Linked DNA regions of Homo sapiens. The protein of the gene in region 2 purifies or fractionates together with the protein of the main gene of each other region. This does not show direct contact. Each region holds a gene or a part of one and is shown on either strand. Other genes may lie near its edges.

Region 1 (3,917 bases), on a different chromosome or scaffold from region 2:
CACTCTGGCCCACCCTCCTCATAGGTCTCCTGCTGGGATGAGGGCTCTGATCAGCAATGATGTGGACAAGTGAAAAACCAAAAAACAAGTGCCTTGAGGTATCAGTATTTAAAAACCCTGATCTGCCCAGCAGTCCGAGCCCTATTCCAGGCTCACCACCGTCTCTGTCTGTAACACACTCTCATGACGTAAAGAACCCTCCAACACACATCACCAAATGTTCCAGAATTCAGAAAATCTTGGTCTTTTATTTCTGTCCCTTGGGTTAAAGACACCTGTCTTTTAGTCATTTTGCTTATGAATGTACTTCTACTGGGGCAACTTAGGAGATGGGGAAAATGAATTAAAATCAGTGAAGCTTGATGCTCTTAAGCAACTCTGGTGATGATGATGATAATGATGAGAAGAAGAATGACTGGGAGACAGAATTAGTGATCCACGTTGGGATGAATTAGCTAAATGGATGTCTATGTCTATCAATCAGCTCGTCACCTCCCATTTGCTCAAAGCTTTGTCTTATGGGGCATCTCCCATCAAGGTGCTAAGTGCTGGGAACCAGAGGTATGAGCAGAGACAGGGCCCCCAAGAGGGCTGGCCCCCTTAACCAAGCTGGCCGGGAGTCCTAGACAATGGGCATCATGGGGCGTCATTGGACCCTGGCAGAAAGCACTACTACTTTGAACTCACTATCACCAAACCACACACAATAGTTTCCTAATTCCTCACCATGCTCCTCCCATCCCCTCCTTTTCTACCAACAATGGACACATCCCCTGCAGCCTGGCAGTCAGGGGGCTGTCTTCTGAGTCCATCAAATGCTGAAAGAAAAATATACAACTACTCAGTTCTTTTTAAAAGAACAAATAGATCTAAATTTAATCCAACTTACCTTTGTTTCCCAGGAGAAAGGGGCAGAGTGCTCATCTTGCCAAGTTAGATCCTGAAATAAAAAATCGAGAATAAGTCTGAAATTCAAACCCAGACATACCCCATGCAAATATCCACCCAGGACCGTGGGGGAACCAAAACTTAGGAATAATCCCAACTCCTGGCTCTAAACAAGCCTGATGCTTTGACACTCTCAATATAATGCGCTGACCGTCTTGATCAGATTGCTCCCTCATCTTTCCCGCTGAGGCTGCCAGACACTCCCCTCCCCAGCCAAACAGACAACAGGGAATGCCGGTGAGGCCCCCCAATGGACTCAGACAGATGAGATGAGTAGGAGTGGATGAGGGCTTGATGGTCTCAGCAGAATCAGGCACAGACTCAGCCCTGAACAATGATTAGCTGTGTGGCCATGGGAAGATGACTCAGCCTTTTTGAGCCTCAGTTTTCTCATTTGTAAAAGCAAAATGATACTTCCCTTGCAGGGCTGTTGTAAGGATTAAATGAGGTAATCTGGGAAAAGAACGCCAAGCCATAATCTGCCAGTCAATGCCAATACAGGAGCTCCCCTCCTCCCCAACAGGCCTACCAGAGAGCTCGAGGGCATGGATCAGCAGAATCAATGAAGAAAAACGCCAATGTAATCCATGTGACTAATTATAACAAGAACTCTGAAATCACTCCCCACCCCCACCAAACAGAACAGGACAGAAAGAGCCCTATAGAACAATCACTACGAATTTGACCTTGGATCCAGTATGTTTTGTTCACTGGCCTGCACAAATGACTTGGGGAAGCCACCTTTCCTTATATCCCACCCTCTACCCGCAGTTATTCCTGTGCTAGCAAATGTCTCATCTGTGTCCAGCTTCGATTGGGTAACTTTTGTTTGTTTGTTGGTTTGTTTTAAGAGATGGGGTCCCAGTATGTTGGCCAGGCTGGACGCAAACTCCTGGGCTCAAGGGATGCTCCTGCCTTGGGTGTCCAGAGCAGCTGGGACTACAGGTGTGCACCATGTCTGACTGCTTCTACTGGGAGCATATTTTCAGAACAAAAAATCAGGACACATTGGGTGATACAGGCTAAAATGGGATAAAATATTTTAAACGGAGATCATATCCATATCTCCCCAAAACTCCAGGTGATTTATGTCCTTCCGTAAGTATCCCTGGATAACTGTCTTCTTCCCACCCATAGGTACACCGACTCTGCGCCCCTAAGTCAAGGGTCTGGCTTCCCTCTCCTCTACAGGGCAAACCAGTTCTGCCCACAGACCCTCTTCTTTCAGCTTTTGACAGAGCCTCCGCCACCCTAGCTTAGCCTCAGACACTGGGGGCAAATGCCAGGGCCCACGCAGGGGGAGTGCCTCACCAACACATAAGTGTACACATTCAGCCTTCCAGACCCCGAGTGTGCGTTCTCTGTGCAGACGCCTCCTAACATGAACAGCCAGTGGGAGGTCAGTCTTTGAACTCAAATAACGAAGGCATGCCAGGGTCTGGGCAGCTGAAGGCCTATTCCCAAGAAGCGGGGACAGGGAAGGAAGTGTGTGATGACTCCCCAGCACAGCCCAAGCACGGCCAACCCTAGATGACAGGGGCAACACAGCAGGGCCTTTGTCCGCTTCTCTATCCCAAGTGCCCGGAAGACTCAGCGACTGCCCGTAGCGGACGCTTACTCACTCTTTGAGAATATGTGAATAAACAAACTCTGCACAAGCCCGGATCCTTTCACAGGTTGATTTTCCCCCACAATCACCCGCTCCCAACACTCACACTCCCCCAAGACTTCCCAATGTGGGGGCACAGGCTCTTCACAGCTCTTGGCCCCAGGAGGAAGAGCCAGCCATCAACAGGGTAGAGATCTGGTTCTGTGTCCTGATGGCTGTGCTGTGTGCCTTGGCTCTGTGCAGTAGAGGCTGGTACATTTGTGGCACAAATACTTCACATATGCTGGGGATAAAGAGCAAGGAAAACCCAGAGAGGAGACTGTCAAAAGGCCAGAATCCAGGTCTTTATTTTCCCAGGACAGCATATAAAAGGACTAAATATATTTATATCAGGAAAAAAAACACCACTAACAAAGATACTAGGTATAAATATTAAGAATTACAAAAGTGAGGGAAAAGCCCTACAAACTGGGTTAAGCTGCATTAAAGTGTATCAAACAGTCAGTTCTGAGAACCACATAGTGTGTGCAACTAATGACCATGTGCACAGTAAGATGACCCCCATCCTCAGAGTGTTACAGTCACTGTCCTGTAATGGTATTTGCTTATGATCCTGACTTCTGAACTGATTGGTATGCAGTGCCTCATGGCTGTCAAGCAAAACCTTTAAAAATGAGAGGAACCACTGCCTTTTTGTTTGGAATTTCAGTTAAACTCAAGTCACTTCCCAATGCACAAACTTCATTCCTCCAAAAATGGAAATGGATGCCTGGAGGAATGTGAGTTACCAAGGCTTTGTGATTAGATGTCTCCTAGCAGAGGCAGAGGGCCAGCCTTCAGCTCTAGGGGGCTCCTTGTCCACGTCTCTGTGTGCATGCTAGGGGTACAGTTGAGCTAAATAACCAAAGTCCCTAAAATCCTCAGAACCCTCTGAGTTCCGTTTAGAAGCAATCAAACCAAGAAGGGCTTTGTTTTCACATGGGAAAAATAAAAGAGGCTGATGGAATGTAAGTATCATTTATTCTAGTTAATCATTCATTAACTCTTCGTGAATAAATGATCTCTGCACAAGCCTGGATATTTTCACAGGTTGATTTTCCTCCCCAGCCTCCACACCCCACACTCACACACCCCCTAAGACTTCACCGGCTCTTCACAGCTCTTAGTTCCAGGAGGAAGAACCGGCCATCCACAGGGTAGAGTAGAGATCCAGCTTTGGATCTTTCGAAAAAGGTAAATGGAAATCAACTGGCAAAGGTGCTCCTTCCATCCAGAATCAGACAGGCCACTGGCCACCCAAATGGAAAGAGGAAGTGCATGAACACCTGCGGGGCAGGCAGAGGGCAGGACCACTGACTGG
Region 2 (3,917 bases):
ACATCCAGCTTTCTACTCTGTATTTCTACCTAAATGTTTAAGATACAACTCAAGATTAACAGCACAAAACAGAACTCCTGACTCCCCACCCTCACCGAACTTGTTTCTCTCTTTAGTTGCTAACCCATAACCTGGGCATTCTTCTTGTCACCTTTTACTCTTATCCCACAGCTAACTCATTAGCATATTTTTTTGAAATGTACCAAAAGACAATTCCTTCTGTCCACTTCCACCCTTCTCACTTTCTGTTTCACCATCATCTTTCCCTTGATCAGTTGTAACCTCCTGATTCTTCACCCTGCTTCCACCCTTAGCCCTGTATAGTCTACTTTCCATACAGCAATCACCTTCATCCTTTTAAAATGTAAGTCAGATAATGTACAAGCTCTGCTGAAAATGCCAGTGGCTTTCCATTTCACTCAAAAAATTTTTTGAAATATGTACCATAGCATGTAAGGTCCTACTGGATCTAATACTGGGCTCCTCTCTGAATTCATTGCTTGCCACTTTTCCTTTTGATCAGTGTCCTCCTGCCATCCTGGCCTCCTTGCTGTTTCTCAGACATGCCATGTATGTTCTTTCCTCTGCACACCTGTGCTTTTTATGCCTTCAGTGCTCCTCCCTAGAGGTCTACTTGATCTCTTCCCTCACTTCATTCAGATCTGTGCTGAACTGTTACCCACCAGAGAGATCTTCCCTGACCATTCAATATCAAATATTACTCCTTCTGTTACAGTAGGTAGCTAGTCAGGCATGAGCAGGGCAGAAGAGGGCTCCCCTCCCTCAACACACACCAGGAATGACAGGCAAACATCAGGTGATGGTCAGGCAGTTGTTAACTGTTTCTCTAAAATATTAATTGGTTGCAGCCTGCACCAGGGAAAGGCAGTCTCCAAATAAACAGAAGCACCTGAAGCTGGTGATCAGCAGCTTCCCATGAGATCTCAGGAACTGGGTGAGTGGGCTCAAGCGTTTGCACTAAGAGGCAAAATGGCAGAGTTTGGTATGTGACCTCCTAGGGACATTCGACTGGTAAGGGAAGAACACCTCAAGTGAACACGCGTACAACTCCAGTAAACACGTTGCACATGGTCCCTTTCCCAAGTGCTGGGAGGCTACTGTGTGTGCAGACAGCCTGCCCCAAGGGAAGAATCAGGGGAGATGGGACACAAGATCCTGGAAGTATGCTAACATATAAAACCCCAAGTTGAAAGGTCAAACCGTGCATTTGTCTTTTCAAGTTGCCCACTTTGCCCTCTTCCAAGTGTACCTTCCTTCCCTTTGTTCCTGCTCTAAAGCCTTTTATTATAATAAACTGATTCCATCTGTAAAATTGCCTCAGCCTCTCCTTCTGCCTTCTGCCCCTCAGTTGAATTCTTTCTTCTGAGGAGGCAAGAATTGAGATTGTTGCAGAGCCATAGGGATTTGCCATTGGTAACGCTTCCATTATTCATTCTTCACTTTCCCTAATTTGTTTTCCTTTATCTTTATAGTGCTTATGATATGTGATAGAATAAACACATAATCATTGCTTCTGCACCCCAACTAGAATGTGATTTCCATAGGAACAGGGAATTGGAATTTGTATCTAGTATCTAGAACCATGCTTAGTACAGTGCATATATTCAAGAAATATTTACTGAATGAATTTAAGGAAAACTTAAAAATTAAATGGGAAAAACAAGAAACTTGAATTTTAGAAGGTCAAGTGGGTGTTCTCTATTACATCTGCTATAAAAAAAAGGAAGAGTTGGCTGTGAAGAAATGGCAATCAAGACCAAGACCTCTTTAGCAAATAACTTGTTAAAACAAGTAAGTCAGTAGAAGGTGTAGTGGGTTGAATGGTGTTCTGAGACACGAAGTTTGTGGTAGTTTCTTGCAGCAGTCCTAAGAAAAAGAATATAGATGAATTAGAAGATAAGGTAAATCTATCAGAAAGTAGAACAAAATGTCAGAGATAGAAAAAGGAGGCAAGAAGAAGTGACGTAGAGATTGAATCCAGAAAGTCCAACATTTGACTCATATGGGTTTCAGAAGGAAAGAACAGACAAAATGGAGAAGAAATTGTAAAAGGGATAATAGAAAAAAATCTAAGAATTGAAGGACCCAAGTTTTCTGACCCCCCCAGTCACATTATTATACAGCTATTGAGAGGATCCCACATGTCTTGCTGGGGGGTGGTCAGCTAACAGGCCTGCAACACTGAATGCTCGAAGACTGGAGTAATGCCTTTGAAATTCTGAGAGAAAAGAGTTTTCCTCCTAGAATTTTCTACCCAGCCAGCTGTCAATCTGGAGTGAGAACAGAGTAAAGACATTTTAGACATTTAACAACTTGAGAAATTGGCCTCACATGCAATCCTTCTTACAGAACACTTATTAGGGATATGCTTCTGCAAGACAAGTAAACCAAAAAAACGTGAATGCATGGGATCCAGAAAATGATAGATCTACACTGGAGAGCAAAGAAGCAGTCTTAGGATGCCCGGAAAGCATCCAGTTCATATTGCAGCCTGAGGATAGAGGGTTCCTGAAGGAGCTGTTTGGGTAAAGAGAGGATTCCATAATTTTGATGATATCCGTGAGGCATTGGAATAACTTATAGACGTGATTATGACAATGTAAGAAAGATAATTAGAAACACGAAGAAAAATAGAAGCTGAACCAAAAAAGGAAATTTAATTATAGCAGCATCCTCACCAAAAATAAACACATAGACAACGCTTCTCACACACCTGAGTGTAAGAATTATTTGGGATGTTTGCTAAAAATACAGATATTCATTTCTCCCTCCTTGAGATTTTGATTCACTAGATGTGGGATGGTGGTTCAGGGATCTGCATTTTAATGAGCATTCCAGGTTTTTCTTATCTAAGAGAAATTTTTGATATATATAATAGGAAATGCATAGAAAATTCAGTATGATTACAGAACATTCTATCAGCCTTGATATGAAAAAATAAATATGCAGAAGACAAAAATTAGAAGAATGAGGAAAGGGAGGTAAAAGTCAGGTTATTGATGTTAAGAAATACTGTATATTTGTATTAGTTTGTTTTCATGCAGCTGATAAAGACATACCTGAGACTGGGTGATTTACAAAAGAAAGAGGTTTATTGGACTTACAGTTCCACATGGCTGGGGAGGCCTCACAATCATGGCCGAAGGTGAAGGGCATGTATCATATGGTGGCAGACAAGAGAGCTAGTGCAGGGAAACTCCCCCGTATATAATCATCAGATCTCATGAGATTTACTCACTGTCACAAGAACAAGACTTGCCCCCATGATTCAATTATCTCCCACCAGGATTCCTCCCACAACATGTGGGAATTCAAGATGAGATTTGGGTGGGGACACAGCCAAACCATATCATTCTGCCCCTGGCCCCTCTCAAATCTCATGTCCTCACATTTCAAAACCAACATGCCTTCCCAACAGTCCCCCAAAGTCTTAACTCATTTCAACATTAACTCAGAAGTCCGCAGTCCACAGTCTCATCTGAGACAAGGCAAGTCCCTTCTACCTATGAGCCTGTAAAATCAAAAGCAAGTTAGTTACTTCTTAGATACAATGGGGGCACAGGTATTGGGTAAATAAAACATTCCAAATGGGAGAAATTGGCCAAAACAAAGGGGCTACAGGCCCCATACAAGTCCAGAATCCAGCAGAGCAGTCAAATATTAAAGCTCCAAATGATCTCCTTTGATTCCATGTGTCTCACACCCAGGTCACGCCGATGCAAGAGGTGGGTTCCTGTGGTCTTGGGCAGCTCTGCCCCTGTGGCTTTGCAGGGTATAGTCCCCCTCCTTGCTGCTTTCATGGGCTGGATTGAATGTCTGTGGCTTTTCTGGGTGCATGGTGGAAGCTATTGGTGGATCTACCATTTTGGGGTCTGGAGGACAGTGGCCCTCTTCTC
Region 3 (4,510 bases), on a different chromosome or scaffold from region 2:
GCTGGGCTCTCCTGGGCAGGCTAGCTAGGGGCTCTGATGGGTGTTCCCACCTGCCCACTGTGTGCTAAGGAGGGGAGGGTGCAGCAAAATACCGCCTGACATGAAAATAGTGCTGAGCTGTTCTCATGGGGTACAGGAGGGACATGCAGGCTCCATGTAGCACCAGGCCTCTGGCCCTACTGGAGGGGGCATTTTTAGAGACCAAGCTCAGTTATAGAGATCAAGGAGATAAGGTGGTCAGCACATCTAGGTGGGGCTATTTGAAGGGGGAGTGGAAAGTCGGAACTAGCGCTCCGAAAAAAGACACAGGCTAGTACTGGATGGTAAATGCCAGGTGTACCCACAGACACCTGAGATGGGGTGGTGATACAGGACATGACCCCAGGAGGCTGAGAGGGCAAAGGCAGCCAGGACATCAACATGGGAACTGAAGCCCCAGACACTGTCAGAGTTTACATTCAGGCAAGACTGGGGTTTAGGGCCTGGTCTGCCTTCTCAGCCATGACCCAGGCTCTTCTGGCAAGAACACAGGCCCTCCCACCTGTCTGCTGCTCAACACAGCCTTAAACTATTCTTCCAGCTGGTGGTCCCATTTGGCTATAAATCTCCTGACCTACTTCCCACTTGCTTTCTAAGCCCATCAAGAATCCCAACTCATGGCACTGGAAGGACCCAGCACAAGGAGATGCCACAGTGGATGATGACCGTGAAGTCAGTGCCCTCTAGCTAGCACCGAGGAAGCATCCTCACCTTCCTGCCATGAGTGTCCAAGATGCTGTGCCGAGATACATCGATCAGTTCTCCCTCCAGCAGGACACCATTTCCCCTGGGGATGAAAGGGAAAGAAAGGATAGCCAGTTTTGTCAGTCCTCAGCAAATCTCACCCGTGTCTCCTATTTACCCAGCCCTGAGAAGGCTGGGTACTGAGCAGCTCCTTTCCCCGTGCTTCCGACATAGGGATCTCCAAAGGGTCCCAAAGGCTGGGGCATTGCCCAGATGCCAGGAGGAACCTTGTCAGGCTGCCCTAAGATCAAGCTATGGCCCCCTCCTACAAGGCCACTGGGAGTTACTGGAACCAGAGCCTCAGTCTTATCTACAAAATGGGGAGGAAAACAGCTGCCTCACTCTGCTCCTCTGATGTTGACACAAGATCATGTGTGTGAAGGTGTTTTGTAAGCTATTAAGTGATTACTAAATACAAAAGATTTTACTTTTTTATTGGTCCAAATGTGAGGGTAGGTATCTAAGCTGCAATAAACTATTTTCCCTTTCCACCTGTTTTTAAACACTCTCATATTCCTTTTCTCATTCATATCCAGGTGGTCATTAACCCGAGGAAATGGTTATTACTGAGAGGTGAAGAAACCAAAACTCAGAAGTCTGAGACTAGTCCAAGATCACACGGTCCTTCACTGAGGGGAAGTGGACCCCTGGCTTCTCGACTCTGGTTTTCATAAAAGCAGAACGTGGAGGCTTCCTTTTTTGCATCCACAGAAATGGAGAAGCATGGGGACAGCTGAAGATGACAGTGGAATAGGGATGGGAGTGGGAAGTGAAAACTCTACCTAGCTGGTCTCTATCCAATTCTTCCCCACCCCCCACAATTATTTTTCTAAATATTTAACTGACAAAAGACTGTATATATTCAAGGTGCACAACGTGATGATTTAAGTACACACTATGTAATGATTACCACAGATTAATGAACACACCCACCAGACCCCATGCTGTACATTAGGTCCCCAGAAATTGTTTATTCTATAACTGAAAGTTTGTACCTTTGATCATTACCCCATCCCCATCCACTATCCCCTGGCAATCACTGTTCACTGTTCTACTGTTTCTTTTCTTTTGACACAGTCTTGCTCCATCGCCCAGGATGGAGTGCAGTGGCACAATCTCGGCTCACTGCAACCTCCACCTCCCAGGTTCAAGCGATTCTCATGCCTCAGCCTCCCAAATAGCTGGGATTACAGGTATCTGCCACCACGCCCGACTAATTTTTGTATTTTTAGTACAGACAGGGTTTCACCATTAGGCTGGTCTCAAACTCCTAACCTCAAGTGATCCACCCGCCTCGGCCTCCCAAAGTGCTGGGATTACAGGCGTGAACCACAGCGCCTGGTCTGTTCTGCCGTTTCTATGGTTCAACGCTTTTATAGGTTCCATATACGAGATCACACAGTATTTGTCTTTCTGTATCTGGCTTATTTCACTTAGCACAATTCTTCAGCGCAGTTGTAAATGGAATGGTCCCTTCGGCCTCATAACCCTGTGACGACAGGGCCTGGCCCTCCAAATCCTCCTCACCCAGGCAGGCCCTGCTCTGGACCAGCCCGCCCGCTGTTCCCGCCACAGCACGGCCACTGTCCCTTCTGGGGCAGGGCATGAGTCTGTGCAAAAGCAGCGCGGCAAGTAGCTGGAGTTTATAGTTACGCGGGTGGGGTGGGGCCGGAGGTCGGCGTGAGGCGAAGCCCAGCCTTCGGAGACCTGTCTGGGGGTCGGGACCCTCTCTCGAGGGCAGGCGGACAGGCGGGGAGCTTTAAGCCGATCTGTGTCATGGGGTCGCTGGGCGGGCGCGGCGGCAGGGGCGCCGGGAGCGGCGGACTGGAGGGGCGGACTGAAGGCGGAGAGGCGGCTTTGGCAACCCCAGTTTTCCCCCACCCGCATCCCACCCCCCCACCCGATCCTGTTGCGGGGTTCGAGCCGGGGCAGGGGAGGCCGACCCGAGGCCGTGAGCCCAGGCCTACCCCTGGTGGGCGGCGGGGTCCCAGGCCCCTGGCAGCCGGACGCTCTGCACCGCCTTGTTCCGGAGCGCGCCGTCGTGGTAGATGCGGCTCATTCTCCCGACCGCCCGGGCACCCCGGCACAGAGCCGGCGCACTGGGCTGGGGGCGCGGCGCGGGAAGTGCTGCAGGACGCGCGGGGACCCGCGATTCCCAGCCGGCGGATCCGGGAATGGCGCGGCCCGGCCCTCAGGCGTTCCTCGGCGGGATTTAAAGGGACCGAGCTCCATTCCTGCACGCCAGGCCGCGCGCGGCAGGAGTTGGGCTTCCGGGAGGACCCTGGCTGGGGGCTTAGCACAGTGGGGCAGAAAGGCCATGCTTTTCTCTTGTCTCTCTCTCTTCCTCATTCCTAGAGGAAGATCCCTGCCCCAGCACACGCACAAAAGGGAAATTGAGGCCCCAAGATCCTATTATAGAAGATCCTTTGTAGGATCAGCCCGGGAAGGATGGGTTTCTGGGAAGCAGGAATGGAGAACAGCCACTGGGGAGGATTGGGTGGTCAGCTTAGAAGCTGTCCATTATGCCCCGCCCGCGGCCCTACAATGGCTGAGTCAGGTATCCCAGGGATCTGTGACGAGGGAGCTGGGGCATGGGTGTCGGACCAAAGACGCCTAAGTTTGAATCCCAGCTGTGAGCTTGGGCAAGCTCCTCAACCTCTCTGAGCCCATGCTTCTTCGTCTGTAAAATGGGGTCAGTATCAGGGGGATTGTAAAGTTTAATGAGCTCACCCTTTCTACAACATAGCATTGCCCTCCCTCCTTCTTCCTGCACAGCTCCTGAACTCCTCCCTGGCCCCACAATGCCCTTTGCCCAAGTATGTCATAGTCCGCAGGTGCATTTTCCAAGCCTGGTACAGAAGATTCTTCTGACCCTGGGATTGTTGAGGAATCTTTGTTCTTTTGTTTGGCTTCTTCGTGCCAGGCCTCGGGGCAGGTGGGCCCATTCAGGGAGGCCAGGTGTACCCCGGGAGAGGGGGCGGCATTTAAAGGGGGTGGTGGCCAGGCAGGTGCCTAGGAGTCTAGCATGAGCTGTCAATGTTGGAAGAAGAAAGCACCCTCTCCCTTCCCTGCTACACACACACACACACACACACACACACACACACACACACAGACAATGACTTTCTTGGGTCCTAGGCACTTTTGTTTTCAAAGGACCCTTTCTCCATTAAAAATTTTTTAAAAAATTATTATCTTACCACTGGGTTGGCATAAAGATGAATATATGAATTATATATATATATATATATTTTTTTTTTTTTTTTTTTGAGACAGTCTTCCTATGTTGCCCAGGCTGGAGTGCAGTGGTGAATCTTGGCTCACTGTAACCTCTGCCTCCCAGGTTCTAGTGATTCTCCTGCCTCAGCCTCCTGAGTAGCTGGGATTACAGGCACTCACCACCACACCCGACTAATTTTTGTATTTTTAGTAGAGATGGGGTTTCACCATGTTGGCCAGGCTGGTCTCAAGCTCCTGACTTCATGTCACCACCTGCCTCTGCCTCCCAAAGTGCTAGGATTACAGGCCTGAGCCACTGCTCCCAGTCTAAAGTGTTTTCTTCAACCTAAACATATATTTTTTTTTCTGCATCCAATCATCCATTACTAAACATATTTTTAGGAAGAAAGAGCACCTGTAGTCCCAGCTACTCAGGAGGCTGAAGTGGGAGGATCACTTGAGCCCAGGAGTTTGAGTCCAGCCTAGGCAACATAGCGAAACCCTGTCT
Region 4 (4,686 bases), on a different chromosome or scaffold from region 2:
GTGTCCCATTGGCTATGTGGTGTAAGCCGTATATAAATGAAGAGGATGAAGTAAAGTTGCAAAGTCATTTACTCTGTGTACACCCTATGTAAATGAAGAGGGTATTTCTTGTCATAGCTGAAGGGTTTGATTTAGTTCTAGGAAGTCCTTAGGTTCCCTGCCTCAAGACCCTATTCTCCTGCTTCACATATACATTTGTTTACATAGAGGTGTCAATAAAGACAACTACTCTTAAATATGCTGAGTGTGTAGTTACTGTTTCCTAGTGGGGGTTCACTGTCACCTTTAGCCACTTTTTCAGAAATTGCTCATAAGAAGGCGCTGAGATCTTAATGATACTTCTTTATCCAAGAACTACAATTAGGATTCTAACAAATTTACAAAAGTTTTCCTATTAGCCAATATTGCATCTTTAGTCAAGAGCATACGTGTTACAGTTATGCACATCAAAGAACTTTATTAACTACGCACGTAACTTTTGGCAGGCATAATGAAAAAAATGTTTACTAGAAGAAAACTCTTTTAGGTTCTTGAAAAAAATGGAAATTACAGTTCAGGTCAAAGTATTTCCTAATTCAATGAAGTAAACCACTGACCAAAATTAGGACTGGAATGTAACTAATGCAATAAAAAGCTCTGACCTATCCAATTGCATTGTAATATAATGGTAGAACATGAATGCTGAGAAAAGAAAATTCAGAGTCAAAATTTTCTTATTAGTTTCTAATTACAGATGCAATGTGAACAACATTTAATGAATCCACTTATACCACATTGATGAAAATATCACTTAAGAACCATTAATTCCTTTTGTAATAGTCATACACGCACTGTAAATTTCTAATTTGTGTTCTGGTTGAACTTTCTGTAAGAAATACCTCGCCTAAGATTATCCTCTATGTAGGTATCTATGTGTATATATGTATACACATACACACACACATACGCACACACACATATATATATGCACTCATGGTATACACACAGGCATTCGTGATATTCTTATAAATCCATCTTACTTAAGTTTGAATAGCATGTGCCATTTCCTTAAGTTGATTACACCAGAATAATCTGTGAAGACAGTTTTGATACCTACAAAGCTATGGACAAATTAGGGCTTATACTGACTAGCCAGTATGTCTGTCTGAAAGCAGTAGGCTTTTGCTCCGACATATTTTTGTTTACAAAATACAAAATTATGTAACTGTGTATGATAAGGCTTAATGATAATTATCTAGAGTTAATTCTATTCGTGTGTGACTTATATTCTTATTGCTCAAATGACTAAGCCTACCAACAAAAACAGCTGCAGCTGCCCCTGCCTTTTGTGGACACTCTTTTTGTGCTTTTAAACCAAACTCTAGTAACAATGTTGGTCAAGAAGCAAGTGCCTAGTATCCATAATTTCAAAATTATTATAATAAAATATATCAGGAGATAGGCCAATGGGGCATTTGTGACAAATGGATTTCAGGTTGATTCGAGGAATTTGTATTTGGAGGATAAAATAGTTGATCAAAGGTACACATTTTTACAATTTTGGGCAGTATTAATATACAGTAGGGAACCTACAGTGAGAGAGGGAGAGAGATGTGGACAGGTGGTGCCAGAGAAGGAAGACTGCAGGGGAGCCGGGTATGGTGGGGGAGCCGGATGGGAGTTAAGAATTTTGTTGCAGGGATGACTTTTAGCTGCTAGGGCAGAAATCATGAGTCGTCCATCCTCCCTTATCTCCAAGTTAGGGATCATTCCCACCAGCAACGACCTCCACTTCACTTAAAAGAGAACAACTGATGGACATTTCTAAAAACTTAAAGTTTGGAATCATGCCATAAGGACGTCATTCCTGGCCCTGCCCCACTGGAGAATCATTAGGGTAAAAACTGCATTGTTAACCCGGGGTGAATGGACATGAGCTGCTCTTCTTTAGTGCTCCTCAGTCTGTCTCTAGGACAGGTTAATCCCCTTCCCATCCTGCCCCTTCAGAAAGGAGTAAAGTCCTAAACATCAAAAGGAAAAGAAATTTCTAGGTTGAAGCCACAGAATAGGCCACTCCCGAAAGTTAGGGCAGAATCACAAGCTCCATTTTGTCCATTTCTCATCTAAGGTTAAAAGAGTCTGTCTGTCATCGTCCGGTTTGATAGGAGGCTCCGGTCCCGCCTGGTTGGGGGAGCGACCACACGAAGCGCGGGTGGCGGGCAGGGTCCAGCCCCACCGGGACCCTGGGCCTCCTCTTCAAGGGTCTCCGCGAAATGCTCGGAAGTTGTGTGCTTCATTTAAAAGGGGGAGGCCGGTTCCGTGGCAAGCGGCTGGTTGACAATTCCCTCCTTCAACCTGATGTCTAGAGAGGGCGGTGGCTTGGAAAGCTACGACTCCACCCGCGGCTCCACAGCGCCAGGTGACAACATGGGAGCGCTCGCTGGGCCGCAGCCGCGACATAGCTGGGCAGCAAAAACGAAACAGCCGGCGCCATGGGAGTGTCCCGGTGGGTGTGGCATCCAGGCTAGAAAAGCCTTCTGACCACCACTGCCCGCGAGACGACCCCGGCTGGGGGTATTCCCCTAGCAGCGGCCTCCTCCTCACGCGCGTTCCGGGTACCCCTGTCTTGGGGTTCCGGGGCTCACGCTAGAACCTCACCGGGGCCCCAGGTCTGGGCGCGCGTGGCGGAGAGCGCATGCGCATTGCTCGCACGTACCCGGAACACTCCCCGCCCCGCCCCTCCCCTCCCGTCGGGTGAAGGCTTGGGTACCCCCGTGGCCGGTACCTGAGGCGCCAGCGTCCGTGAGGCCAGCGCCCGAGTCAGGGCGCTTCTGAGGACGAGCATGGCGCGGCTTCGGCGCTGAGAAAAGCAGCCAGCCGTGTCCTTTCTGAGACTCCTCTGAAGGTTTCCCGAGTGGAAAGGAGCGGCTCCTGGATCATTGGCAGACGCAGGCTGGGGCGGGGCTCGGCGGGGTCAGCTCCACCCCGGCGCGGGAGGCGCGGCGGGTCCCGTAGCTTGGTGTCTTTCTCTGCTGTGCTGAGCGTTGGTTCCCCCTTGGTTTCCTGAAACGTTCTTACCCCAAACGTTAGAGGTGACGTTAGGATTAACTGAAGGCTCGGATCGTTCCTGCTTCAACTTTCTGGGCCCTCACTCACCTCATTCGCTCCAGTGCTCAGTTGTGTAGATTGGTAAATGTGCAGGGGTTGTGGGTGTGTTGACCATGGGGAAAGAAGGAGAGGTGTTGAGTGCGTGCATGTGCAGTGCTTTGTATTTAAAATCGTGGAGGTTTTTTCCGAGTTAAGTTTTAGATGTTGTGATAGACGTGTATTTGAGCCTGACCTCTCTGCAATGAATGTGTTCTCCATCTTAGAAGGCTCCTAATTAAGATTTAGATTAAATTTTCCACGAGCTCAGAGAAATGGCAGCATCGAGCCTGAAATGAAAAAGTCAAAGTTAAACATACCCTGGTCTAGTCCTCCCAGTCCGGGAGTGTTGGTTCCCAGAGTAACCACCTTCAACATTTCAAGCTGTTTCATTTAATGCTTGTTTCTGTATTTTTAAGTAAGTAGTGTTTTCTGCTGTTTATTGCATTTTCAGTTATGGATAGTATGTGTTGACTTCCTTCTGTGGCAGATGAGGATTTATGTCTCATAGATGCCACTGCCCCCAAATTCACTTGTCTTCCTGCATCTAATAATGCTTATGTTAATTTACAGTAATTAATTACACTATTAATTTACAGTAATCTATATTAATGTTTACATTATTCTTGCTAATAATTACATTATTGTAAACATTAATGTAATATTGCTTACATCATGAGGACTAGGGAGGGATTGCAGGGCCATGACCTGGGTTGTATTGGTTGTGCCTTGTGGAAGAGCTTTGGAATTGTCTGTTCAAAGGAAGGGAGACTTTTTAAAATTAGTTATTTCGGAAGGGTTGCCTCAGTTTTTCTAGAAGAGAGACATCTATTTGTAACCATGCAAGACTAAAAAAATCATTTGTATCAGGACTGGATCTATATGAGTAAATTATTTTCTTAGACCTTTTTTTTTAAACCCTGTAATTGCCAATCCATTTACTTATTCAACAGATATTTACTAAATTCCTTCCATGTTCCAGGCACTTTTCCAGAAACTGGGGTACAGAATTGAGCAAAATTCAAAGTCCCGTCCTCTTGGAACATCCAGGATGGAGGAAACAGATAAAAAAAGGAAGAGTAAATATATCAGGGATTGTCAAATAATATAAAGAAAAATAAAGTAAGATACGAATAAAGGTGCTAGTGGAATTCTAAAAGTGGTCAGGATTCTAGCTATTGACTTGGATATTTAGGATTTAGGTTTCTTCATACCACTCCCTCAAAATACACTTTCCTTCCTGCGTTTATTGATGTTTACATTAAAAATATATTTTGGAGTGAGAAAAACATGTTAAAAGCACTGTAAGCACAGGTGAATCTCTTCAAATAGTGGGCTTCACTGTGAGGTGATCTGACCTGGGTATTTCACTGAAGGCTGTATCCCCTCCCCCCAAACTGTTATCTGCAAGTTATTTATCTGTGTAGTCAGTGTTAGGGAAGGGAAACTTCCAGTATCTTATCTGTGTGAGAAAAGCCTTGCTGCCAGTTTCCTGAGGCTGAGGAGGGAAGAAGGCCAGAACACTCAGCATTTGGTAGTATCTTTCAATAATATATTAATTAG
Region 5 (3,128 bases), on a different chromosome or scaffold from region 2:
CGTCACGCAGTGCAGCCCCCACACTATTTACAAATACAGTACCTGAGGGCCGATATCCCAAAGCTAAGGCTTATCAAAGGCCTGCGAAAAGACAGACACCGGGCACCACCAGCAGTTGGCCATTCTCAACGACCAGCTGCACAAGATCGTGGGCCGGAAGCACCTTGGGCATGCCACGTACTGCTCACAACCAGGACGGGATGTGCTCAGGAAGTCACCTCAACGCTAAAGTAAACTAAAGCATTTACACCACATCCCTGTGTCAGAAATAAAATTTTTTCAGGGCCACTTTTAAGCGCCGCGCTTTAACAGAAATCGGCCGGCCAATCACACACCACCGCGGGAATTTGAAGAAAAAGTAGGACCTGGTGGCTCAAGTAGCCTTAGCTATCCGGTGACTGTGGCTGAGACTGAGACGGAAGGATCCTTGCGCCCAGGCTGCTGGGAGCTGTTAATAACTGACCCCCAACCAGCACGACTAGGATAGACCGTGGCCGCACAACACCGCAGCACCCGCACCCCTCTCCACCCCACTCCCCCCTCCAAAAAGCTTCAGCTCTTTTGACTGAGACCTGTGGGTGGCTCTGAAAAGAGCCGTTTAAAATTTTCAAAGGGGAACGTCCCGCCAGTTTCACTTTTTCTTCGGAGCTGCCTTCTTTGCCTTTGTAACCTTCGGCTTCCCCGACTTAGGCTTGGCCGCCTTGGGCTTAGGGGCTTTGGCCTTAGCTGGACTCTTGGCAGCTTTTTTTGGCTGAGGTGTTTTCACCTTTTTCGCACTCTTGGCCACTTTCTTGGTCCCAGCAGCGGTTGCTGGCTTCTTTACCTTCTTAGGAGTCTTTTTGATGCTTTTCTTCGGGGTAGCGGCGCCAGCCACCTTCTTGGGCTTCTTGGCTGCCCCAGCAGGCTTCCTAGGCTTGGCTGCGCCAGCCTTTTTGGCCTTGGGTTTGCCTTCCCCGGAAGCCGCTTTCTTGTTGAGTTTGAAGGAGCCAGAAGCACCGGTACCTTTGGTCTGCACCAGAGTACCTTTGCTCACCAAGCTCTTGAGGCCAAGCTTGATACGGCTGTTGTTTTTTTCTACATCGTAGCCAGCAGCCGCAAGCGCTTTCTTAAGCGCGGCCAGAGAAACGCCGCTGCGCTCCTTAGAAGCTGCCACTGCCTTGGTGATAAGCTCAGATACTGGGGGTCCGGATGCTTTGCGTTTCCCAGCAGTTGCGCCTGCCTTCTTCGCCTTTTTCTTCACAGGTGTTTTTTCTGCGGGTGCAGGAATGGTAGGAGCAAGTGGAGCAGTCTCCGACATGTTTTTGTCTTCCCAGAAAAGACAATAAGTAATCTCAAACTGTCAGAACAGCATGTCCTCTACGAGGGAGGCTGAGGGTTTATATAGAGAGACGCTGAGTGATGATTGGTTCCTTGCTCCATGCGCGGCGCTGCTGGAAAAGGACTCCTCGTATCTACCGCGCTGCTGTGTTTGTTGCCCCTTAAAAAAGAGTAAAAATATAAGAAATCTGGGCATGAAATAATTAGAGACTTGGGGGAAACTGATCCGAGAGAGTTCGGGCTTCATTCCTGCCTTTGTTTCTATGCATAGTTTTAAAACCGGCATCTTGAAACTTTTCTTATTCCCCCAACTCTCTTTCAAACTTCGGTCAAATCGAGACAACTTTCATGTTTTCCTTAAAAATACTATTTCTCCCTCTTTCATTTGCAAATCTCTCTTCCAGGGCATTGTTCTGTGAATTCTTACCGTCTCAACTTTATATAGATAAACTCATTTTTATCCAAATGTGCAGGGAAATTGGGTTTTTTCGCAGGAACAATAGCACAGGCTCTCTGGCGAGCTGTTTGCATCAACCTCTAGGAATTGGCACTGAGGTAGAAAGTTCTATGTACAAGAGGGGTGATTAGTTTAGAAAAGATAGTTTAAAAAAAAAAATAGTATTTGAGTTACCAGTGTGTAAGCTGGATTTGATCTCCATATTTCAGTGGTTTAAACATTTCCAGAAAGATAAGGGTGAGGCTACATTATTCCTCTTACAGAAAAAAAAGTCCTAAGTAGAGTTACCAACCTTCTCTTAAAAGTTAGGATCATGGATTTTTCCGATCTAGAATGGGCATTAAAGATCAACTACCACATCCCCAAAAAAGAAAACTGAACCAACAAATAATAGAATGGCAGGCCAACATCATTTTGGCAACTGTGAGCATTGAGAGCTTGTGTACATGTTTGTGTCCCATCACTTTATAAATAATTTAATGAAATACACTATTTTTTTGCTAATATTCATCATAGAATTTTGTACATTTTTTATATTTTAAAATCATATTTATAATACAAATTTCCCTTCCTCTTTCTCTGTACAACCTGTTTGAATAACTGGTAAAAGTCACTTTAAAAAAATAAAATACAAATTTTCAACATTGCAAGTGTGGGCATCAAGGGTTAGAAAGAAAAATATCTGATTTAAATCACTGTAAATTTTCATCATTCTACTTGGCTTTTTACACACAAAATATGAACTAAGCTGTCACACCCTAAATTAATTGGTTGAATATGTCCACCTAAGGAGCTGAACAAACATTTCAAAGCAAACATGAGTAACTTCAGTATTCTTTATCTGTTAGTTTGCAATACAGCTGATGGAATTAGGTTATTATTAAATAATTAAGCACAAAATTGATATTCTCCATCAAGTAATCAGATGCTGAAATGAACTCCTATGTTGAAGAAACAAGAGAAGTAGTTTGATGTTATGTTTCTTCTAACAAAAATACTCATTTCAAAAAATCAAGTTATTCTGGCCTACACTCAATAGTGATTAGAGGATTTTTTCATATAAATCCTAGATAAAATAATCAACTTTAAAGATGTCATCTCTCCTCATTCAACTAATTTCATAAAAATTACTTAGCTTGTCTTGGCCAGGCGCAGTGGCTCACGCCTGTAATCCCAGCACTTTGTGAGGCCATGCTGGGCAGACCACCTGAGTCAGGAGTTCAAGACCAGCCTGACCAACATGGTGAAACCCTGTCTATACTAAAAATACAAAAATTAGGCGGGCATGGTGGCACACGCCTGTAATCCCAGCTACTTGGGAGGCTGAGGTAGGAGAATCGCTTGAACCCGGAAG
Region 6 (3,917 bases), on a different chromosome or scaffold from region 2:
GACAGTGGCTCTCGCCCTTGGAGGTACATTAGAGTCCCCGGGGAAGCTTTTAAAAATATTGATGCCTGGCCTCACCCCTAGAGATTCTGGTTTGTTCTGGGGAGAGGTCTGGGCACTGGTAATTGTTAAAAGCTCCCCAGCTGATTCTAATGTGCAGACAGATTTAAGACCCATTGATCTATGAGAACAATAGTGAAGATGGACAAGAGGAATAATTATACATAAAGGGCAGTATAAAACCATTTCACAAGCCACGGATAAGGCATAATAATAACTATTATTTTTTGAGACAGTCTCACTCTGTTGCCCAGGCTGGAGGGCAGTGGCACAAACTTGGCTCACTGCAATCTCTGCCTCCCAGGTTCAAGCAATTCTCCTGCCTCAGCCTCCTGAGTAGCTACAATTACAGGCTTATGCCACCACGCCCAGCTAATTTTTGCATTTTTAGTAGAGACGGGGTTTCCCCATGTTGGGCAGGCTGGTCTTGAACTCCCGACCTCAGGTGATCCACCCACCTTGGCCTCCCAAAGTCGTGGGATAACAGGCATGAGCCACTGCACTTGGCCGAGGCATAATTTTTTTTTTTTTTTTTGAGACTGAGTCTTGCTCTGTCGCCCAGGCTGGGGTGCAATGGTGCGATCTTGGCTCACTGCATCCTCCGCCTCCTGGATTCAAGTGATTTTCCTACCTCAGCCTCCCGAGTAGCTGAGATTAACAGACGCGAATAACCACTCCCAGTTAATTTCTGTATTTTTTAGTAGAGACGGCGTTTCACCATGTTGGCCAAGCTGGTCTCGAACTCCTGATCTCCGGTGATCCACTCACCTTGGCCTCCCAAAGTCCTGGGATTACAGGTGTGAGCGATCGTGCCTGGCTGGCGTAATTATTTTTAAGTGTGAGGTTTAAATAGTCTGCCTTATATCAATTCTAAGGTATTATATAATCTTGAAGCAACAAATTAAACCAAAAATGAACCTCCCTAGGGTCTCCCACTTAGAAACATTTACACTGCGATTAGTTTATCACTTTTTGTGGAAATACCTGATAATTAAATTTAAAAGGATTTCAAAAAATAGGAGAAAGACTTTGACATCAAGGAAGCATTATGAGGCCAAGTGTGGCGGCCCACACCTGTAACCCCAGTACTTTGGGAGGTTGAGGTGGGCGGATCACTTGAGCCCAGGAGTTTGAGGCCAGCCTGGACAACAAGGTGAAATCACGTCTCTACCAAAAAAACAAAAAATTAGCCAGGCATGGTAGTGCATGCCTGTAGTCCCAGCTACTCAGGAGGCTGTGGTGGGAGGATCACTTGAGCCCAGGAGGCAGAGGTTGTAGTGAGCTGAGATTGAACCACTGCACTCCAGCCTGAGTGACAGCGTGAGACTCTGTCTCAAAAACATTAACAAAAACAAAACCCACTTTTGCTCTTAAAAGTATCCACTGCGGGCCGGGCACGGTGGCTCATGCCTGTAATCCCAGCACTTTGGGAGGCTGAGGCGGGTGGATCAGCTGAGGTCAGGAGTTCAAGACCTGCCTGGCCAACATGGTGAAACCCCATCTATACTAAAAATACAAGAATTAGCCAGGTGTGGTGGCATGCAACTATTAATCCCAGCTACTTGGGAGCCTGGGGCAGGAGAATCACTGGAATCCGGGAGGCACAGGTTGCAGTGAGCCGAGATCACGTCACTGCACTCCAGCCTGGGTGACAAAGCAAGACTCTGTCTCAAAAAAAAAACTATCCACTGCATAAAATAGAAATCCATGAGTCTAAACTGGTGTGTGTGTGTGTATGTGTGTATACAGATATATAACTGAGTAAATAAATGGGGGAGAAGGAAATCTCTTCCTGACAGTAATATGCCAACTATAATAAATGTAGAAGTATGATCAAAAAATCACCATTTGTCAACCATCACGGTGGTGGCTGACTCAGGCAACAGTTGTCAATGGATGCTAAGCCCGGTAGGTGGAGGTCTCATATGAACAGGATATTGGCATAATCTCAGAATCCATCTCTCCTCAAAGGGCACTGGCCCATTACAAGGGGAGAAAACAGGGTCTCTGTGCTAGAGATGCTTGGAGGACACCAATGTAACTGAGTGACCAGGTTTATCACCACCAGAAGTGAGACAGGACAGCCATACACCTCCTGATGTGGTGCACTGCTGAGAGTCCAGCCTAATTTCTGTGGTCTTACTGCCAAAAATGTATGACCTGGTTATGATGATGGATGCACAACTCTGTAAACAGATTTCAGCACTTAACAAGGATGAGTGGCATGGTATGCAAATTGTATCTCAATACAGTGATGGTTATAAAAGTCTCTAACCCAAGTCTGATCACAAGACAACAGCCTAGGCCAGGTGTGGTGGCTCGCGCCTGTAATCCCAGTACTTTGGGAGGCCAAGGTGGGTAGATCACTGGAGGTCAGGAGTCCAAGACCAGCCTGGCTAACACGGTGAAATCCTGTCTCTACTAAAAAAACAGAAATTAGCCGGGCATGGTGGTGGGTGCCTGTAATCCCAGCAACTCGGGAGGCTGAGGCAGGAGAATTGCTTGAACCCAGGAGGCGGAGGTTGCAGTGAGCAGAAATTGCACCACTGCACTCCAGCCTGGGTGACAGAGCCAGACTCCATTTCAAAAAAAAAAGAAAGAAAAGAAAACAGCCTAGGCAACACAGGGAGATCCCATCTCTACAGAAAAATACAACAACCAGCCAGATGTGGTGGTGCATGTCAGTAGTCCCAGCTACTTGGAAGGCTATGGCAGAAGGACTGCTTGAATCCACGAGGTCAAGGCTACAGTCAGCTGTGATAGTGTGACTGCACTCCAGCTTGGGTGACACAGCAAGACCCCATCTTAAAAAAAAAAAAAAAAGGGAATAAGAAAACATTAGCTAAACACAGGTTGAGAATTATCAGAGTCAAAGGCCTGTATTCTTTTTTTTTTTTTTTGAGACAGTCTCGCTCTGTCACCCAGGCTAGCGTGCAGTGGCATGATCTCTGCTCACTGCCACCTCCGCCTCACGGATTCAAGCGATTCTCCTGCCTCAGCCTGCTGAGTAGCTGGGATTACAGGTGCACACCACCACGCCCAGCTAATTTTTGTATGTTTAGCAGAGACAGGTTTTCACCATGTTGGCCAGGCTGGTCTAGAACTCCTGACCTGAGGTGATCTGCCCACCTCAGCCTCCCAGAGTGCTGGGATTACAAGTGTGAGCCACCATGCCCGGCCAATATTGTTGTATGAATCTAACATTACTTGTATAGTGGTATAATATTAATTAATGATGGATTATAAGAATCCATTCTGTAATCTCTGTAACTATTACAAATTAATATAAAGGGACTTAGCTTACAAGCCAATAAAGCAGAAAATACTTGACCTAAAAGAAGGCGAGCACAGAGAAACTAAGCCTATAGAGCATATTTCTCTTGGGGAATGAGAACAATATTAAGAACCTAGCAATTAAGCAAACACAAGCAGTTGTCTACTTTGCTTAAATGCAATCCACATTATTTACAAACGCAAATTTTTGTCAAAGTCTAAAATGTTGCTGGGTACAGTGGGTCATGCCTGTAGTCCCAGCACTTTGGGAGGCCAAGGTGGGAGGACTGCTTGAGGCCAGGAATTCAAGCTCAGCCTGGGTAAGAAAGCGAGATCCTGTCTACCAAAACACCACCACCAAAAAAAAAAAAAAAAAAAAAAAAAAGGAAAACGAAATTTGCCAACTCTCTAAAAACCAGAGAACATGAGCATTATTAGTCATCCTTAAACAAAATTCAGGAGATTCCACCTTGCTTCTTCTCATGCTACTTAGCAACATTTAGATTAGCTACTGGTGGGGCAGTATCTCTGAAAGGAGAGGGAATCTTATACGATTAGTGCAGCACAGCCATGAGCCAAATGCAGTC
Region 7 (3,917 bases), on a different chromosome or scaffold from region 2:
AGAGTGGGCAGTGGGGTTGAAAGACCGGGCACAGTGGCTCACACCTGTAATCCCAGCACTTTAGGAGGCCGAGGCAGGCAGATCACGAGGTCAGGAGTTCAAGACCAGCCTGGCCAACATAGTGAAACCCCATCTCTACTAAAAAAATAAATAAATAAAATTAGCCGGGCGTGGTGGCAGGCACCTCTAGTCCCAGCTACTTGGGAGGCTGAGGCAGGAGAATCGCTTGAACCTGGGAGGCGGAGCTTTTAGTGAGCCGAGATTGTGTCACTGCACTCCAGCCTGGGTGACACAGTGAGACTCTGTCTAAAAAAAAAAAAAAAAACACTGTGGGTTTTCCACTTGCAGTTAATGAGAGTCAACCTCTATCCTATGTTGATTTCTTTTTTTTTTTTTTTTTTTTTTTTTTGAGACAAAGTCTTGCTTTGTCACCCAGGCTGGATGGCACAATCTCAGCTCACTACAACCTCTGCCTCCCACGTTGAAGCAATTCTTCTGCCTCAGCCACCCGAGTAGCTGGGATTACAGGCGCCGACCACCACGCCCAGCTAATTTTTGTATTTTAGTAGAGACAGGTTTTCACCATGTTGGCCAGGCTGGTCTTGAACTCCTGACCTCAGGTTATCCGCCTGTCTCGGCCTTCCAAAGTGCTGGGATTACAGGCGTGAGCCACCACGCCCAGCCTCCTGTGTTGATTTCTTATGGTACCTCTCTTTTATAACAGAACCGTAATTCCTGGGCACACATGGCAGCTCAGAAATGTTGCCTGACCTACTTTGAGGAGATGATTTGAGCGAAACACCCATTCTAGCCTGGATGACATGAACATCTCCGTTTGGCTTTGTGCTTAGACTCAAGAACCTGGAGCTAGCTGCTGTGAGAGGATCAGATGTCCGTGTGAAGATGCTGGCGGCCCCTATCAATCCATCTGACATAAATATGATCCAAGGTAACCTTGGTTTCTGTGGCTTATGTTAATTGGCTTTTTTGTTCAGCTGCCACCTCATTTTCATTCCTCCTCAGGTGTGGGTGTGAAATGCCTGTGATTAGCAGCAGCTGTTCTCCAGATGAGCCGTCTGCAGGCTGTGTCAGCCCTGTCTGGCCTCCCTTTTCTGGAATGTGTGGCTTTTTGAGAAGATTGCAGTGGGGAGTAAACTAAGCATTGTGAAGTGCCTGCGACATGCTGGTTTCATTTCATATGTTACCTGATTTTCATGATAACCATGAACACTAAAGAATATTGTCCCCCTATACAGACAAGCAAGCTAAGGCTCAGAGGTTGGTTAGGCAGACAGTCCAAAGCAGAGCCCAGATCAGGCCTAGGATGGCGTGGACTCAAGTCCATGCTCTTTCACTGCCCAAACATCACTGGTTGACCCTTTAATGCTCTTCTCCCTCAGGAAACTACGGATTCCTTCCTGAACTGCCTGCTGTTGGAGGGAACGAAGGTGTTGCACAGGTGGTAGCGGTGGGCAGCAATGTGACCGGGCTGAAGCCAGGAGACTGGGTGATTCCAGCAAATGCTGGTTTAGGTGAGTTTCTCCAGGTGTCAGCTGCCTATTCGTTCTTCCAGATCCTATTTCACCCACTCTGTCGGCATCCACTGATTGGCCGAGTGTACCTGGGTAATGCAGGGTTTATTTTTTTTATTTATTTATTTATTTTGAGACGGAGTTTTGCTCTTATTGCCCAGGCTGGAGTGCAATGGCGCGATCTCAGCTCACCAAAACCTCCGCCTCCCCAGTTCAAGTGATTCTCCTGCCTCAGCCTCCCAAGTAGCTGGGATTACAGGCGCCTACCACCACGCCCGGCTAATTTTTGTATTGTTAGTAGAGATGGGGTTTCACCATGTTGGCCAGGCTGGGTCTCAAACTCCTGACCTCAGGGATCCGCCTGCCTCGGCCTCCCAAAATGCTGGGACTGCAGGCCTGAGCCACCACGCTTGGCCTTGTTTTGTTTTTTTTTGAGACAGGGTCTCACTTTGTCACCTGTGCTGGAGTGCAGTGACGCGATCTCGGCTTACTGCAGCCTCCCAGGTTCAAGCGATTCTCCTGCCTCAGCCTCCCGAGTAGCTGGGATTACAGGTGTACACCATCACGCCCGACAAATTTTTGTATTTTTAGTAAAGAGGGGGTTTTATCATGTTGACCAGGCTGGTCTCAAACTCCTAACCTCAGGTGACCCACCACTCAGCCTCCCAAAGTGCTGGGATTACAGGCATGAGCCACTGTGCCGAGTCTGAATTTTGTTTATACATGGAGATGAGCCAAAATTCACTTCATGTGGAGGATGTAAAATGAGGAAAGACACAAAGGTGAGATTGGGAAATGGTGGAAAATCCATTGTAGCCTCAGCAGAGGGTTTGCATATGGGAGAGGATTGCACGAGTGAGAAAGAAGGCCAGAAAGGCAGGTTCAATCACGTGAGCCCAGGAGTTCTAGGCTACAGTGAGCTATGATCGCACCATTGCACTCCAGCCTGGGCAACAGAGTGAGACCCTGTCTATTTTTTTTTAAAAAGGTAGCTTGTGTCCACATGGGGTAAGGCCCTGCCCAAGCCAAGCTAATGAGTAGGATTTTGTTTGATATATTATAAGGAGTCATAGGTGAGTTTTGTTTTTAGCACTTAACAGTTTTCAAGGCACGTCTGTTATTGATCCTCACAGCAGCTACAAGAGGGAAGCAGGGCAGGTATTATCCATCCATTGGACATAAATTGAAGCTTGAGAAGTAAAGCCCTGGCCCAAAGTCAAACAGCAAAATGAGAGTGCCCACTGGATTCTTTCTCCTGGGTTCCCATTACACACCAGTGTTATGATCTTCTGGGTTGTAACTTACAGCGACCCAGCTCAAACTTGCTTTAAAAAAAGAAGTTGGGGCCAGGCGTGGTGGCTCACGCCTGTAATCCCAGCACTTTGGGAGGCCGAGGTGGTGGATCACCTGAGATCAGGAGTTCAAGACTAGCCTGGCCAACATGGTGAAACCCTGTCTCTAATAAAAATAAAAAAATTAGCCGGGTGTGGTGGCATGCGTCTGTAGTCACAGCTACCCGGGAGACTAAGGCAGGAGAATCTCTTGAACTCAGTAGGTGGAGGCTACAGTGAGCCGAGATCATGCCACTGCACTCCAGCCTGGGCAACAGAGTGAGACTCCATCTCCAAAAAAAAAAAAAAATAAGGCCAGGCGCAGTGGCTCATGCCTGTAATCCCAGAACTTCGGGAGGCCATGGCAGGCAGATCACCTGAGGTCAGGAGTTTGAGACCAGCCTGGCCAACATGGTAAAACCCCGTCTCTTCTAAAAATAAAAAATTAGCCAGGCATGGTGGCGTGCACCTGTAGTCCCAGCTACTCGGGAAGTTGAGGCAGGAGAATCACTTGATCCCAGGAGGCGGAGGTTACAGTGAGCCGAGATTGTGCCACTGCACTCCAACCTGGGCGACAGAGTAAGACTCCATCTCAAAAAAAAAAAAAAAAAAGAAAGTTGATTTGTGGAACTGGGAAGTGTAACAGAGTGAAAGCTTCGGGTTCAGCTAGATCCAGGAACCCCAGTACTATCAGAGTTGTGTCTCTCACTTGTTCTTAGATGAGATCTCCCCACATATTGATATAATCAAACCAACAAATATTTATTGGCCACTCTCTTTGTGCCAGGCACTGCTCTAAGCACTTCATGTATATTAACTCAATTGTTCCCACAACATGAGATGGATACCTCATCATTCCCACTTTGCAGGTGATATAACAGTAAATGCAGCAGAAAACTGTAAACTGTTAAGCAGTTTGTCCAAGGTCACCCAGCCAAAAGTGATGGAGTTAGAATTCAGATCCACTCTGATACATACCTCTCATAGATGGCCACCAGCAGCCTGAGGTTCATATCACCCTAAAAACAAACAAATGAGCATATCCTCCACAATC

What was found.
Region 1: the proteins of PPA2 (region 2) and C1orf198 fractionate together in Homo sapiens (co-fractionation; one large-scale study listed by BioGRID). This does not show direct contact.
Region 3: the proteins of PPA2 (region 2) and ARPIN purify together in Homo sapiens (affinity purification with mass spectrometry; 3 studies listed by BioGRID and IntAct, with this or other methods). This does not show direct contact.
Region 4: the proteins of PPA2 (region 2) and NIPSNAP3A purify together in Homo sapiens (affinity purification with mass spectrometry; 2 studies listed by BioGRID and IntAct, with this or other methods). This does not show direct contact.
Region 5: the proteins of PPA2 (region 2) and H1-3 purify together in Homo sapiens (affinity purification with mass spectrometry; 3 studies listed by BioGRID and IntAct, with this or other methods). This does not show direct contact.
Region 6: the proteins of PPA2 (region 2) and PDPR purify together in Homo sapiens (affinity purification with mass spectrometry, with the first as the bait; one large-scale study listed by BioGRID). This does not show direct contact.
Region 7: the proteins of PPA2 (region 2) and MECR purify together in Homo sapiens (affinity purification with mass spectrometry; 2 studies listed by BioGRID and IntAct, with this or other methods). This does not show direct contact.

The regions. Positions count from the first base shown.
Region 1 is NC_000001.11:230,854,779-230,858,695, forward strand, and holds part of C1orf198 (uncharacterized protein C1orf198), read right to left. Parts: intron 1,230-3,917; exon of another isoform or gene 1,100-1,229; intron 941-1,099; coding exon 890-940; intron 1-889.
Region 2 is NC_000004.12:105,464,009-105,467,925, reverse strand, and holds part of PPA2 (inorganic pyrophosphatase 2, mitochondrial isoform 1 precursor), read left to right. Parts: intron 1-3,917.
Region 3 is NC_000015.10:89,909,994-89,914,503, forward strand, and holds the start of ARPIN (arpin), read right to left. Parts: upstream 2,960-4,510; 5' UTR 2,843-2,959; coding exon 2,751-2,842; intron 2,695-2,750; exon of another isoform or gene 2,059-2,694; intron 827-2,058; coding exon 751-826; intron 1-750. Other genes in the region: ARPIN-AP3S2 (uncharacterized protein LOC100526783), read right to left, coding at 751-826, 2,751-2,842. UniProt on the Homo sapiens protein: Regulates actin polymerization by inhibiting the actin-nucleating activity of the Arp2/3 complex; the function is competitive with nucleation promoting factors.
Region 4 is NC_000009.12:104,745,931-104,750,616, reverse strand, and holds the start of NIPSNAP3A (protein NipSnap homolog 3A), read right to left. Parts: upstream 2,935-4,686; 5' UTR 2,825-2,934; coding exon 2,765-2,824; intron 1-2,764.
Region 5 is NC_000006.12:26,233,637-26,236,764, forward strand, and holds H1-3 (histone H1.3), read right to left. Parts: upstream 1,352-3,128; 5' UTR 1,298-1,351; coding exon 632-1,297; 3' UTR 576-631; downstream 1-575. UniProt on the Homo sapiens protein: Histone H1 protein binds to linker DNA between nucleosomes forming the macromolecular structure known as the chromatin fiber. Histones H1 are necessary for the condensation of nucleosome chains into higher-order structured fibers.
Region 6 is NC_000016.10:70,120,730-70,124,646, reverse strand, and holds part of PDPR (pyruvate dehydrogenase phosphatase regulatory subunit, mitochondrial isoform 1 precursor), read right to left. Parts: intron 1-3,917. UniProt on the Homo sapiens protein: Decreases the sensitivity of PDP1 to magnesium ions, and this inhibition is reversed by the polyamine spermine.
Region 7 is NC_000001.11:29,213,620-29,217,536, reverse strand, and holds part of MECR (enoyl-[acyl-carrier-protein] reductase, mitochondrial), read left to right. Parts: intron 1-724; exon of another isoform or gene 725-851; coding exon 852-949; intron 950-1,400; coding exon 1,401-1,532; intron 1,533-3,917. UniProt on the Homo sapiens protein: Catalyzes the NADPH-dependent reduction of trans-2-enoyl thioesters in mitochondrial fatty acid synthesis (fatty acid synthesis type II).